Homo sapiens: one gene and its partner. The protein of the gene in region 1 interacts with the protein of each later gene in a biochemical or structural test. Each region holds a gene or a part of one and is shown on either strand. Other genes may lie near its edges.

What was found. The genes of interacting proteins can lie anywhere in the genome.
Region 2: of the proteins of FBXW2 (region 1) and SKP2, one has a biochemical effect on the other in vitro, tested with the Homo sapiens proteins (one study listed by BioGRID).

What each region holds. Positions count from the first base shown.
Region 1 is NC_000009.12:120,786,764-120,790,421, forward strand, and holds part of FBXW2 (F-box/WD repeat-containing protein 2), read right to left. Parts: intron 1,516-3,658; coding exon of another isoform or gene 1,496-1,515; coding exon 1,006-1,495; intron 1-1,005. UniProt on the Homo sapiens protein: Substrate-recognition component of the SCF (SKP1-CUL1-F-box protein)-type E3 ubiquitin ligase complex.
Region 2 is NC_000005.10:36,172,558-36,176,215, forward strand, and holds part of SKP2 (S-phase kinase-associated protein 2), read left to right. Parts: intron 1-3,658. UniProt on the Homo sapiens protein: Substrate recognition component of a SCF (SKP1-CUL1-F-box protein) E3 ubiquitin-protein ligase complex which mediates the ubiquitination and subsequent proteasomal degradation of target proteins involved in cell cycle progression, signal transduction and transcription.

The DNA.
Region 1 (3,658 bases):
AGAATTATTTACATTGCCTGTCAAAATGTATTATCTAACACATGGGCATTAGTTATAATCATATACAGAAACACACGTCCATTACAAATGGAAAATAACATATAATTTTAAATTTTTAATAATTATATTGTTTCATAAAATTACTTAATTGCCTAGTTAAAAAATATCCAGCTCTCTCTGTTCCCAGGCCCAAACTCCAACTTCTACTTCTTCTACTTAGAATCACAGGATTTCAGAGCAAGGAAGAAATATCTCCTTTCATATATACATATATATTTATTTTGAGATGGAGTCTCACTCTGTCACCCAGGCTGGAGTGCAGTGGCACCATCTCAGCTCACTGGAACCTCCGCCTCCCGGGTTCAAGCGATTCTCCTGTTTCAGCCTCCCGAGTAGCTGGGATTATAGGCGCATGCCGCCACGCCCGGCTACTTTTTCGTATTTCAGTAGAGACGGGATTTCACCATGTTGACCAGTCTGGTCTCGAACTCCTGAGCTCAGGCAATCCACCCGCCTCGGCTTCCCAAAGTGCTAGAATTACAGGCATGAGCCACTGCGCCCGACCTCCTTTCCCATATTTTAAAGATACAGAGAGGTTAAGTAATTTGGCCATAATGATCTAACTACTTGCTAGGATTAGATACCAATTTTTCCACTGTTTTTTTCCTCAAATATCAGTGCCAACAGAAAAAGAAACAGAATTTAGCAACAGAGGACTACACATGGAGGAAACACAAAGAAAAAGTAATCTATAGCTTTGTAATTCACATAATGTTTAAAAGACAGTCTGAAGTGTTTTTCTCATAAAATTTTATAAAAATGATTGTGTTCTCTAGAGAGAAGGAAGAGGATAAGGGGGGGGAACCACTCAGGATTAGAGAAAAAAAGTCACTGTACATATCTCATATAATCAACACTTGTCATTCTCAAAGCTCAAGACTGGTTCAAGATTACACCCTATGAAATACAAAACAAAACCCAAAAAGCAGTTTCAACATCTCTTACCTGTACAGAGAAGTCCATCTTTGTAGTAAAGTGCATACACTCTGGCACTGTGTCCAATTAATGACGAGGTTTCAAAGGCTTCATGGTCCTCCAGTTGCTTCATTCTCAAAATAGCCTTCAAATAAACCTTCTTCCAGTGCAAAGCGTCCTGAACAGAATCATCTATCTGCCAGCCCAAATTTTTACATGCAGTCTGCCACACCTCTGTACAGGCACTTATCACCTTATTCCACTGTTTAGAGACGAGGCAGCATGTGAGTAAAGTCTGAGGATCGAGCCATTTTAACAAATAAAAACTGAGCTCCAGGGGAAGGAGTTTGAGGAAGTCCCGCTTGAGGAGAGTCTCTAGGTTATTGGAGAGATGCCTGAGCTGGACTGCCCCACTCAGACTAATCAGGTGATCCAGAGTTTCATTTTTCTGCAAGTCCGTCAGAGAAAGAAATGTAACAGAAATGTTATCAAGCCATGTCTCAAAGTCCTTTCTCTCCATAAGGTTATGGAAAAATTTACCTGTGGCACATCAAAATATTGTATTAGTTCTGCTCAAAAAGACTGTTCAAGCAAGACTGCTAACAAATGAAGTATTAAAAATTAGTGTAAAAAATCTGCCATTACAACTTTATGCGTAGTTACATTACAACTTTACAGTTAATACACCATATTTATCTGAACACTTTCCATGCACACAAAAGAAAACACATTTGAGAAAACATACTTTAACAAATCATGAATCCAAAACATGTCAGTGAAACAGACTGGCGTGTGTGACTTATTCCTCTTGAAGTCTAGCACGTGCTACATGCATCTTCATAGTAATAGATTTACCAACAATTCATTATAAAACAGTATATTTTACAATACACCCTTCCCCCATCAAAACCATTATAAAACAATTTCCTTAATGAATTCCTTAATACATTCTATTTGGGTACTAAAATCACAAAAGCAAGCACCAGGATGTGACAATCAGAAACAGTCTCCTGAGCAGTAACCTGAGACACTGATTGTCATGGCAGGCACAACCTGTCACCAAAATCATAGAACTGACTACTTGGTTTTGCAACAGATGTTCAGATGAAAAGGTTTAGGGAAGAAAAGCAGGTGTGGTAAGTTATCTGCCTCAGGAATTCTGGTTCTTCCAACTTCTTTATGGCACTGCCTGTTTAGAACATGAATTATAAAAGAACTTATGTGGCTTTAGTCTGTTTTTCTAAACCTCATATGAGCTAGTGACAACTCTTAACCACGTGCCCCCGAGAGCCATGAGGGGTCCTGGAGGCCTGCACAAATAAAGCAAATTAATAATCCTGATGTTTATAAAACACCAGAAAATAGACATTATCATCTTCACTTTGCAAATGAGGAAACTACAGGTTAGAGAAGGTATGTGATTTGCCTATATTCACAGGGCTACTAAATAGCCACAGAACAGACTGGACGCCAGTGCTCTCAAGATCAGGTACCAAGCTCTCTCTCTAAAATAAGTGACAACCAGGAGAACCACGACCAAGTGGTAAGATCTGGAGGTAGTGTGTCTACCCGTTAGACCATTTTCTCCTTTAGGAGAATGACAAATTGCTCCTGAGCTAACTGTAACAAATAATTTTTTTTAAAGTATCCTGTATTAGTGTCAACAGGTGTTAATTCACTCTTAATGAGGATTAGACTAATGAAAGATTACAAAAAATATAACCAGTAAAAACTATCTTTCTCAAGACTATGTGTTGATAGATGTTAATGCTGGGTGATGTGTACATAGGGATTTATTATTCTCTTTATTTCCATATATTTAAATATTTCCATGGTTTAATAAAAACTTTCCTTCTGAATACTCAGTTTCTCACAAGACTGTCATATTAATTTTAAAAACATATGTCCAAATTAATGTGAAAAAGGAAAGTTAATTTCTTTCCAGACATATCACCTAGATCAGGTCTACACAAAAAGCAAGATCTCATCTTTCAACTTTGATAATGTAAGGTGAGTAAAATTGTAAGTGTCCAATATCAAATTTGGCAATAACATTCTTAGACAAATAAGCAATCTGATTTATTAGTAGAAGCAACCAAACCTTGCAATCACATCATCTGCTAACAGTTTTGATTTCTGGAACTGTGACTAGACTTCAAGATAATACGTTTCAAGCCAAAGTTTGGGCTAGAGAAGATTTATTAATCTGTATTAAAAATTTACCTAGCTGACAAAAAATAATCAGATGGCTAAAAGTTTTATCGACTTATCACGCAATAACAAGCCCCCTCCTTCCTCTAAATCCTAACAACCCTCTTATCTATACAACATTTCTTCAAAATCTCTACTTCTAAAAAATAATAATTTGCAACAAGACAAAGCAATTATCTTCTGTGGGCATCTGCATATTGTCACAATAGCTAGTTAATTAATACTGGTCAATTAAAAACACACACCAGGCTGGGCACAGTGGCTCACGCCTGTAATCACAGCACTTTGTGAGACTGAGGTGGGCTCGGCCGGATCACGAGGTCAGGAGATCGAGATCATCCTGGCTAACACAGTGAAACCCCATCTCTACTAAAAATACAAAAAATTCCCCTGGCATGGTGGTGGGTGCCTGTAGTCCCAGCTAGTCGGGAGGCTGAGGCAGGAGAATGGCGTGAACCCAGGAGGCGGAGCT
Region 2 (3,658 bases), on another chromosome or scaffold:
TCAACCATATCTTGATGTTAGTACTAGCTTATTTGAGTGTGTTTTGTTTATTATAGTTTTTATTATTCTGAAAAAGATTTGAATCAAACATCTGCAGAATAGATCTTAAAATTTAAGTAGTATAAAACTACTGCTCCAGGACAGATGTCCTCTGGTAAGATGTATAAAGCTATAGAAAATAATTGCTAGGATCTCATGAGTGGGTAGAAATTCGAGTCTTTCACCTGTGCAAGGACTCAAATTTGGACTACTGCCATTCCAAACACTTGCATTTTCAGACAAGGTGAACACTTTCTTTAGCAAGCTGTAAAAGCAGCAATCATGTCTTCATTTCATACCACTCTCCCCACCCAGTATTTATAATTACTATTTTAAAACTGATCATAGTGTTATACAGTCATTTAAAAAAAATGTAAAATACAGAAAAACACAAAGGGAAGCAAATTATCAATAATCTTAACATCTTGCTAGGCTTTTTCCTGTACAAAAACTGTTTTTTTTTTTAATGGGACATGGTATATTAAATACTTCGTAATATGCTTTTTAACCCCATTTTCAGTGACTACATGATGTCATCATCAGTGGCTATGTGATAGTCCATCAAATAGATATGCAATAATTTATATTAAGTCAATAACAATATATGCAGTTGATCAGAATTCTAATGGACTTTCAGAATCTTCCCAGTTTTTCTCTCCTATAAACAATTTTATGAGTGACAGAGACAAATCTTTAGATGCATTTCTAAGGATAGATTCTTAAAAGTGGAATTGCTGGGTCCAGCATTAAGTACTATTCTCAAGTTTTGGATAGTTTCTGCCAAATTTTCCTCCAAGAAGTTTAAACTCTTCACCCACGAGCATCCTCTTAGTGTGAAATCCCATCACTCTTGGTTCTTCTCTGTCTGCAGGTGAAGGGAAGGCAGTGCCTTGTTTATATTTCTTTCCCACATCTGGATCTTTCACTGGTTTACTGAAAGATTTTCTGACATGAATCGAGGCTCTGGGTGCAAGGTTGAGAAACTGCTGTAGGCAAAGTGCTGTTGGTTTTGTCCAAATTTGGCTTAAAATCTTTCCCTTTGTTCCTCCAAGAAAGAACAGAGAGCCTGTTTACCGAGTTTTGGCAGAAATAGTAGGTATTAAAATGCTGCTTGCTAGACACATTCAGGACAGAGAGACAGACTGTAAATTGAAGTGTTAGTTTTTTAATTATACCATGGGGATAAAAAGTTTTTAATGTCATTAACAATAGCACACACCATTTCATTATATATGAGATAATATGGATTTGGTTTTAGCTCATAGACTGGTACCAGATGGCCTGGGTTCAAATATCCACTCTGCCATTTACTGGGTAGACTTGAGCAAGTTGCTAAACTTGCCTGTTCCTTAGTTTTCTCAGCAGTAAAATGGAGATAAGTAGAACCCATCTCTTAGAGTTACAGGAAAGAATAAATGAGTTAAGACATGTACAGCATGTGGAACATTTCTTGCCACATGGTAAGAGTTCAATTAGTGTTGGCTGTTAATACTGTTCCTTCCCCCACTACCCCCATCACTACCTTTCCATGGAGCAATGGATGAAGCACAGAAACATTTGGTCTTGGATTTGACCTTGACTTCTGTAGCTGAAATCATCTCTCCTTTGAAGTAACGGGTTGGATTAACGGGTGGTTTCTAAGATCCTTCTAGCTCAGGTTGGGTCTACTGTTTATGGTGAAATGAAGGGGACAGTGAAAAGGAAACCTTGGCAGTGACTACTGTTTACTAACTACTTCCTGCCCAGGGAGGACAGAGCTTAAGTGTGGGCCAGAGGAAACTAACCCTTTATCCCCCAATGTTTCGTTCTTTCTCCAGTGGTGTCAAAGTATGATTGCATCAGATTTTGCTGATGGCTAGTTGGCTGGCTAGATGATTGGTCCCTCAAAATTTTATTGTGTACTTTTTTCATTTTTTGGTCATTTATTAAATATTTATTGAGCACCTACAGTGATTGAACAAAACAGAGCCTTGAACAAAACAGAGAAAGTCACTCTTATGAAGATTACTTTCTAGTGGGGGAGCCAGAAAGTGAACATATTTCATAAATGTTATGAAAGGAGGTAAAAATGCAAGGACGAAGAGCAAAGCAGAGTAACCAGATAGAATGTGGCAGAAAGAGGACTACTTTTAGATGGAATGGTTAAAGACAGGGCCTCTCTGAGGAGACTGTACTGGACCCAGAGAACTGACTGAGTGAAGAAGGAATCCATATGCATATGTGAGAGAAGAACATTCAAGAACAAAGGACCAGTGAGTGCAAATACCTTGATATGGAACCAATGTGTGAGAGGGAGCAGGGAGAACAGTGAGAGGAGAAAGATGGCCAAGGGCTGTCTAAGCCAAGGCAAAAGCTTTGAATTTTTCCTAAGTGACATGGGATATGGGAAGCCATTGGAGTATTTCGAGCAGAGCAATATGACTGACTTCATTTTAAAAGACTCACGCTAGTGCTGTGTTGAGAAAAGGCTGTAGCGGGGAAGTATGAAGCAGGGAGACCAGTTAGCAGACTAGGCTGGTGACACTTAAGGTGGTAAGAAATGATCAGATTTGGGCACATTTTAAAAACCAACATCATGAGATTTGGTGACACAATGAACGTGGGATGTGAGAAAAATAGTCCACTATGATTTCAAGGGTTTTGGCTGAAGCCACTGGATTCGTGAAATTATCACTTGCTGAGATGGGAAAGAGTTTAGGGAAGGAGGAAATTTGGGGGAGAAATTGAGTATTTGATTTTAGACATAAATTTAGAGGCCTATCTCATATCCAAACGGTATGTTGAGGAGGCAGTTGAAAATGCAAGTCCAGAATTTAGGAGAGGGGATATACTTGTGAGACGAAAAAACCCTCAAATGTTAATGAAGTTTGCCTGTTGTTCTAAATAAGTAACATTTATTGATTCATTTTCTGATTGCCAAGTAGCTTACATGACTTTCTTCCAAATTCTGAAAAGTTGCCTGTAATCCAAACACCCTTGAATACTGCAGTTAACATTTTGGATGTATTTCCTTGCAGCCTTTTTTTTTTCTTCTCTCTTTCTTTCTGTGTATGTGTTTGTGTGTAAATGTGAGTTTGAGTGTGTTTTGACCAAGTTGAAATTATAACGCATTGTATATATTTTGTTTACAAGCTATCCTAGTATTTTTTTAAATGTATGAAATGTTATCAGAAAGCGTTTTCATAATGATTAGCAGTGTATTTCACGGAATGGATGAGGTTAACATATTAAACTAACTGGAGGAGGGGCTAATATAACTGTTGCCACATTGAATATATTCATACACATCTATATTTTTCTAAAAGTGGAATTACTGGGCCAAAAGTAAACTGTATAATTCTCTGAATTCTTTAAAAAAAAAAGAAAATCAGTTCACTATCCAAAAAAAGCAGGAATCAGTTCACTATCCAAAAAACGCAGGGTTCAGGCTCCTGAAAGCCTGCAAATAAAATTAAATATCTACCTGTGGTACATGGAAGACCTACTTTATGGTAGACCTACTTTATAATAGAATTTTTTTTCACTTGATGGCTGAGAAGAAATATTTCTAATTTTATTTGGTATTTCTTGCTCCTTTTTATTATCTTGGTATTTTGCAATGTAGATTTGTTCATGTTCA